Linked DNA regions of Homo sapiens. The protein of the gene in region 2 interacts with the protein of the main gene of each other region in a pairwise test. Each region holds a gene or a part of one and is shown on either strand. Other genes may lie near its edges.

What was found.
Region 1: the proteins of NAE1 (region 2) and ALG8 interact in a two-hybrid assay, tested with the Homo sapiens proteins (one large-scale study listed by BioGRID and IntAct).

The regions. Positions count from the first base shown.
Region 1 is NC_000011.10:78,101,407-78,105,238, reverse strand, and holds part of ALG8 (dolichyl pyrophosphate Glc1Man9GlcNAc2 alpha-1,3-glucosyltransferase), read left to right. Parts: intron 1-785; coding exon 786-883; intron 884-1,186; coding exon 1,187-1,259; intron 1,260-2,290; coding exon of another isoform or gene 2,291-2,349; exon of another isoform or gene 2,350-2,365; intron 2,366-3,832.
Region 2 is NC_000016.10:66,802,157-66,804,788, reverse strand, and holds the end of NAE1 (NEDD8-activating enzyme E1 regulatory subunit), read left to right. Parts: intron 1-1,670; coding exon 1,671-1,780; 3' UTR 1,781-1,911; downstream 1,912-2,632. UniProt on the Homo sapiens protein: Regulatory subunit of the dimeric UBA3-NAE1 E1 enzyme. E1 activates NEDD8 by first adenylating its C-terminal glycine residue with ATP, thereafter linking this residue to the side chain of the catalytic cysteine, yielding a NEDD8-UBA3 thioester and free AMP.

The DNA.
Region 1 (3,832 bases), on a different chromosome or scaffold from region 2:
GTCAGGCCAGTATGTGGCTTGTCTGGGTTTATTTAGCAGCTTGGAGTTTCCAAATTAAAAAGTAAAGCAAAAACTTTTAATGTCTTTAGTCTGAATTCACACCAAACACCAGCAGGTGAAGGGCATTGTCCAAGAGATGAGCTATAGGGTTGGAAATGAAACTCCAAGTCCTGTTTCCCTGACTGCCACCACTAGGCAGCTCCCAATCCCACAACATTCCTGTCTTTGGAGAAGGCAATTACTCAGGGAAGCAAGATTCTTTTTTTTTTTTTTTTGAGACAGAGTCTCGCTCTGTTGCCCAGGCTGGAGTGCAGTGGCGCGATCTCGGCTCACTGCATCCTCTGCCTCCCAGGTTCAAGCAATTCTCCTGCCTCAGCCTCCTGAGTAGCTGGGATTACAAGCACCCGCCACCATGCCCAGCTAATTTTTGTATTTTTAGCAGAGACAGGGTTTCACCATGTTGGCCAGGCTGCTCTTGAATTCCTGACCTCAGGTGATCCTCCCGCCTCGGCCTCCCAAAGTGCTGGGATTAAAGGCATGAGCCACTGTCCCCGGCCAGAAGCAAGATTCTTTTACGATACCCCTGATTCAGTTTGATACATGCTATTGATTGCTTAAAATTTCCTACTAAAAAATTAATATTCTCAACTAAATTGAACTTGTGCCAAAATCAGCATGTTCTTCTATGCCTCAGCCAGTTCTAATGTAATAGGAGATGCAGTTTATTTAAGCTATTTGCAAGTGTAATAACAGTTGTTGTTTTAAGAAATTATTTTTATTTTTAGCCTTTTGTCTGTGGGAAAAGCAGGAGACGCTTCGATTTTTCTGATTCTGACCACAACAGGACATTATTCCCTCTTTCCTCTGCTCTTCACTGCACCAGGTAAACAGCGTCTTCTGAGAAAAATATATTTGACTATCACAACCTTTTCATCGAGGCCCACAGATTAATACATCTAATTTAAACAACTCTAAAATCTCTTGGATAGAGATCATTCATCCTCTTAAATAAAACCTCCAATTTCCTGTAATTCTCAGCATCTCTAGATGTCACAAAAATGTAAAATTAAACTTAAAAAGTATTATTAGCACTATATAGCTGTGTCAGTGTGCTTATATTACTTTCAGCATCATAAGTCTTTCTGTCATCAGCTAAATTATCTTTTTTTTTCTATTCTTTTAACAGAACTTCCCATTAAAATCTTACTCATGTTACTATTCACCATATATAGTATTTCGTCACTGAAGACTTTATTCAGGTAATCAAAAAAATGTTTAAAATTATACTTACTCTTGTGAAATGTTTACACCTAAGTGGTCAAATAAGCTCTTTAAATTTTATTTTTAAGTTATAACAGTAATATGACAACATTACAAAAAAAATTGGTAAATAGAGGGAGAAATCACTCAATCCCATCACTCAGTCGAGACAACATAGTTTGTGTCTTTAGTTTGGGGGAGTATTTGAGGAGGACTACTTAAATTAAAATCCTATATGAAAACTCAAAAACTGAATGTAAAATATGCTTTATGAATAAAACTATTAAATACAGATAGATATGGAAAAAACTAAAAGATACTATGTACAAATTTTTTTTGTTCGTTTTTTTGAGACGGAGTTTTGCTCTTGTTGCCCAGGCTGGAGGGCAATGGCGTGATCTCGGCTCACCACACCCTCCGCCTACCGGGTTCAAGCTATTCTCCTGCCTCAGCCTCCCAAGTTACTGGGATTACAGGCATGCGCCACCATGCCCAGCTAATTTTTTTTTTTTTGGAGACGGAGTTTCACTCTTGTCGCCCAGGCTGGAGTGCAGTGGCGCGATCTCCACTCACTGCAACTTCCGCCTCCTGGGTTCAAGCGATTCTCCAGCCTCAGCCTCCTGAGTAGCTGAGATTATAGGTATGCATCACTACCACACCTGGCTAATTTTTTATATTTTTAGTAGAGGTGGGGTTTCACCATGTTGGCCAGGCTGCTCTCGAGCTCCTGACGTCAGGTGATCCACTTACCTTGGCCTCCCATAGTGCTGGAAGTACAGGCGTGAGCTGCTGTGCCCGGCTAATTTTGTATTTTTATTAGAGATGGGGTTTCTCTGTGTTGGTCAGGCTGGTCTTGAACTCCCAACCTCAGGTGATCCACCCACCTCGGCCTCCCAAAGTGCTGGGATTACAGGCGTTGAGCCACCGCACCCAACTATGTACAAATTTTACTACAGAATTATAGATGGAAACTTTTTCTCTTCTAAACTGTATGTAATGTTAACTATAATTTTTTTTTTTTTTTTTTGAGACGGAGTTTCACCCTTGTTGCCCAGGCTGGAGTGCAATGGCACGATCTCAGCTAACTGAAACCTCCGCCTCCCAGGTTCAAGCGATTCTCCTGCCTCAGCCTCCCTAGCAGCTAGGATTACAAGCATGCGCCACCACACCCAGCTGATTTTGTATTTTTAGTAGAGATGGGTTTCTCCATGTTGGTCAGGCTGGTCTCAAACTCCTGACCTCAGGTGATCCACCGTCCTTGGCCTCCCAAAGTGCTGGCATTACAGGTGTGAGCCACCATGCCCGGCCAACTGTAATTTTTTAAAGCTTGCTTATGGTTCATAACTGTGTCCATAAAAACTTATATAATTAACTATGTTAAAATGCAGTTATAGCCATGTGACCCAGCAATTCCACCCCTATACCCAAAAGAATGGAAACAGGGACTCAACAGATACTTGTACATCAGTATTCATTGTAGCATTATTCATACTAGCTAAAAGATGGAAACAACCCAATGTCCATCAACAAATACATGATAAAGTGTGATATATACATATAGTGGATTATTCAGCCAAAGAAAAGAATGAAGTTCCAATACATGCTACATGAATGAATCTTGAAAACATGCTAAGTGAAAGAAACGAGAGAATAGAACAAATATCATATCGTTCCACTGATAGGAAATTCTAGAATAAACAAACATAGAGACAGAAAGTAGATTAGAGGTTGAGGGAACAGGGGGATGGGAAGTTATTGTTAATGGTTCCAGAGTTTCTGTTTGGGGTCACGAAAATATTTTGAAGGTGGATAGTGGCGATGGGCGCATATTATTGATCTACTTAATACCATCAAACTGTATACTTAAAAATGGTTAAACAAATAGCAAATTTCATGTTATATATATTTTACCAAAATAAAAAATATTTTAAAAATCTGGTGAAACCTTGTCTCTATAGAAAATACAAAAATTAGCTGGGCATGGTGGCAGGCGCCTGTAATCCCAGCTACTTGGGAGGCTGAGGCAAGAGAATCGCTTGAACCCAGGAGGTGGAGGTTGCAGTAAGCTGAGATTGCACCACTGCACTCCAGTCTGGGTGACAGAGCAACGCTCCATCTCAAAAAGAAAATTTTTTTTAAATCTTCAATTCTATATTGTTTCTCATGTTCTTATTCCAATGTCACAGCACCCAACCCCTTTACCTCTTTCAAATGCAGAACTAATTCTCTCTGAGCAGCTTGAGCTAAATAACAGCATAGGTCAATGGTGGAGTAAATTTAGATTGTTGAGATAATATAACGTATATAATTATCATTTTTTTCTAAATGTGAAACTTATTTTTTATTTTTATTTATTTTTTGAGACAGAGTCTCACTCTGTCGCCCAGGCTAGAGTGCAGTGGTGCCATATCGACTCACTGCAACCCAGTTAAAGCAGTTCTCCTGCCTCAGCCTCCCAAGTAGCTGGAATTACAGGCCTGTGCCACCCTGGTCGGCTAATTTTTGTATTTTTAGTAGAGATGGGGTTTCTCCATGTTGGCCAGGTTAGTCTAGAACTCCTGACCTCAGGTGA
Region 2 (2,632 bases):
TCTTCTTAGGGCACTAATCCTATTCATGAAGGTTCTACGCTCTTGACCTAATCACCTACCAAAGGCCCTATCCTCATACAATTACACTGGGGGTTAGGATTTCAACATATGAATTTGAGGGGGAAACGAACCATTCAGTCCATAACACCCCTCAAAAAAAATTACTGTCCTGTGATCTCCTGTAGACTGAGCTATTAGCTTGTGGCATTTTCCTTCTAGATGTTGAATGTTTTAAAGGCAGATTTAGGTCTAATTAATATTTGAAGTGTTCAAAATGTAAATGCATCATACAGACCTAAGAAAACTATTTTCTAAGCAAATCCAAATTAAAGCCTGATTCAGAATAATTTATTTTAAACTAAAACCAAGTAGTCTCTTGTGCCAAAGTAGCAAAATTTTCTGCCAATTCACAGAAAAGGGCAAATTATTATTTATTCAGATGCAGTCCAGAATCTAAGAAGAGGTACAGCCAGATGGATGGACTGGATGACTTAACTATAGCAGAAAAAAGTATAAATTGAAGGTTTTCTTTGTTTTTTTTTTTTTGTTTTTTACTTCTGTGCATTCTGTAATCATTTTGCACAGTGCCATTATATCCCTTCACTTCCTTCAGGTTTTATTCAAATGCTGTCTTCTCTGCGATGCCATCCCTGACTCTCCTATTTAAAATACAAACCCCTTCTCTTGTATTTATATCTCCCTTATTTGCTTTTTCTCCTTAGCACCTATGGTCAGTTGACATACTACACATTCTATTTATTTGTAAATAAATTCTCTCTCTCTTGCTGCTAAAAAGTAGCATGAGGGTAAGTGGATCTTCTTGTCTTTTTTCCTTACTGTATCCCTACTGCCTAGAACAGTATTTGGTGCACAGTAGTCTCAAATTCTATCCAGTCGGCTGAGCGCGGTGGCTAATGCTTGTAAGGCCTCCGCTTTGGGAGGCTGAGGTGGGCGGATCACTTGAGGTCAGGAGTTCAAAACCATCCTGGCCAACATGGTGAAACTCCATCTCTACTAAAAATACAAAAAAATTATCCAGGTGTGGTGGCAGGCATCTGTAATCCCAGCTACTTGGGAGGCTGAGGCAAGAGAATCACTTGAACTTGGGAGGAGGAGGTTGCAGTGAGCCGAGATCACGCCACTGCACTCCAGCCTGGGTGACAGAGTGAGACTCTAGTCTAAAAAAAAAAAAAAATTCTATCCAGTCCATGAATATTTGGGAAAGAGGAATCTTCAGGTTATAGAAGATGCACAAGTTTTTTTCTTAGTAGTTTTTTTGTTTTGAGTAAATATAGCGGTCTGGCGATATTTAATATAGATCCTTCCTAAATTACAAATGCATTCAGAACAAATATACCTTTCTCCTTTTTTATTATAAAACAGATACAAGGTAAAATTCAAATGCAGCAGTAGGGTGTCCTTTGAGAATCTTTTATGCCTGTGTGTATCCTTTAAAGTTTGGTCAACCACACTACTGTTTAGATTTCCTTTAATAACAAAAAGAATTATAGGCTTTTATGTTGATATGACTCAGTAAGCTAACTGCATCTGTTTTGGGTCACTTTAAAACACCTTTGCTTTTGAAAAGGAAAAGTTTCTTTACAGAATTGAGTATGTAACTCTTGAAGTTTACTCTTTCAAAGATTTGCTTTTCTCCTTTTTCCTTTCAGGAGCTGCTGCTCAAGAGGTCATCAAAATAATCACCAAACAATTTGTAATTTTTAATAATACTTACATTTACAGTGGCATGTCACAAACTTCAGCAACTTTCCAGTTGTAGAGTAAGCAAGCACCTTAAGTAGTGTGTTAATGATTGAAACTGTAATTGCCTTCGGGTTGTGCTTTAGTCTGTAAAATTCTAAAGGAGAGCTGCTAAATTGTTTTCTTAATAAACATTTTTCTCATTTGTAATAATGTAGTCTTGTTCTTTGTGGGGAGGGGAAAGGAGACAGTCATTTTCCTAGAAAATGAATCCTATCCATTTCTCACTGAGCATCAATATTGGCTTGCTATTTCAAAGTTACTTGTCATAGATTATCCTTGTGTTTTATTAGAGATAATTAAAAATTTTTTTTCTTACCATCTTCAATAATGAATTTAAGCCATGTGCAGATGTTAGCTATGGACATTTTAGGACCATCATCATTTGTTAAAATGAATAGAATTTAAAAAGATATTTCTGGATATGTAGTTTTCCCAGAAAACAAGACCATCCCCTTGTATGTAGTATTATCTTAATTAACTTGAGTTTTGGCTGCCTAACCTACTTCTTGAAATTTTATGGGGTCATTCTACTCATATTATATATACTCTTAAATTTAATCACATGGGACTAATAGCATTCACCAGCATATTAGAGGGCAAAAAAAAAAAGGAAGTAGTAGATGCAAACAGAGTGGAAATCCAGAATCCAGAAGTGGGGGCAGTTCCCGGTTTTGGGCTTGATGTATTAATACTTAGGGCTGAGGAACGTGGTCCGTGGTGCATGACTCTTAGTAGCTAAGGCCCCTAATCTGCTGCAACTGTCTCTGAGGCCAGCGTCTCTTAAGTGAGAACCTGTTAGATTTGCTAGGGTACCTCACAGGGACTTGGTTTTCCAGACGCTAATGTGTCAGCCATTCTTTGGCTGTTC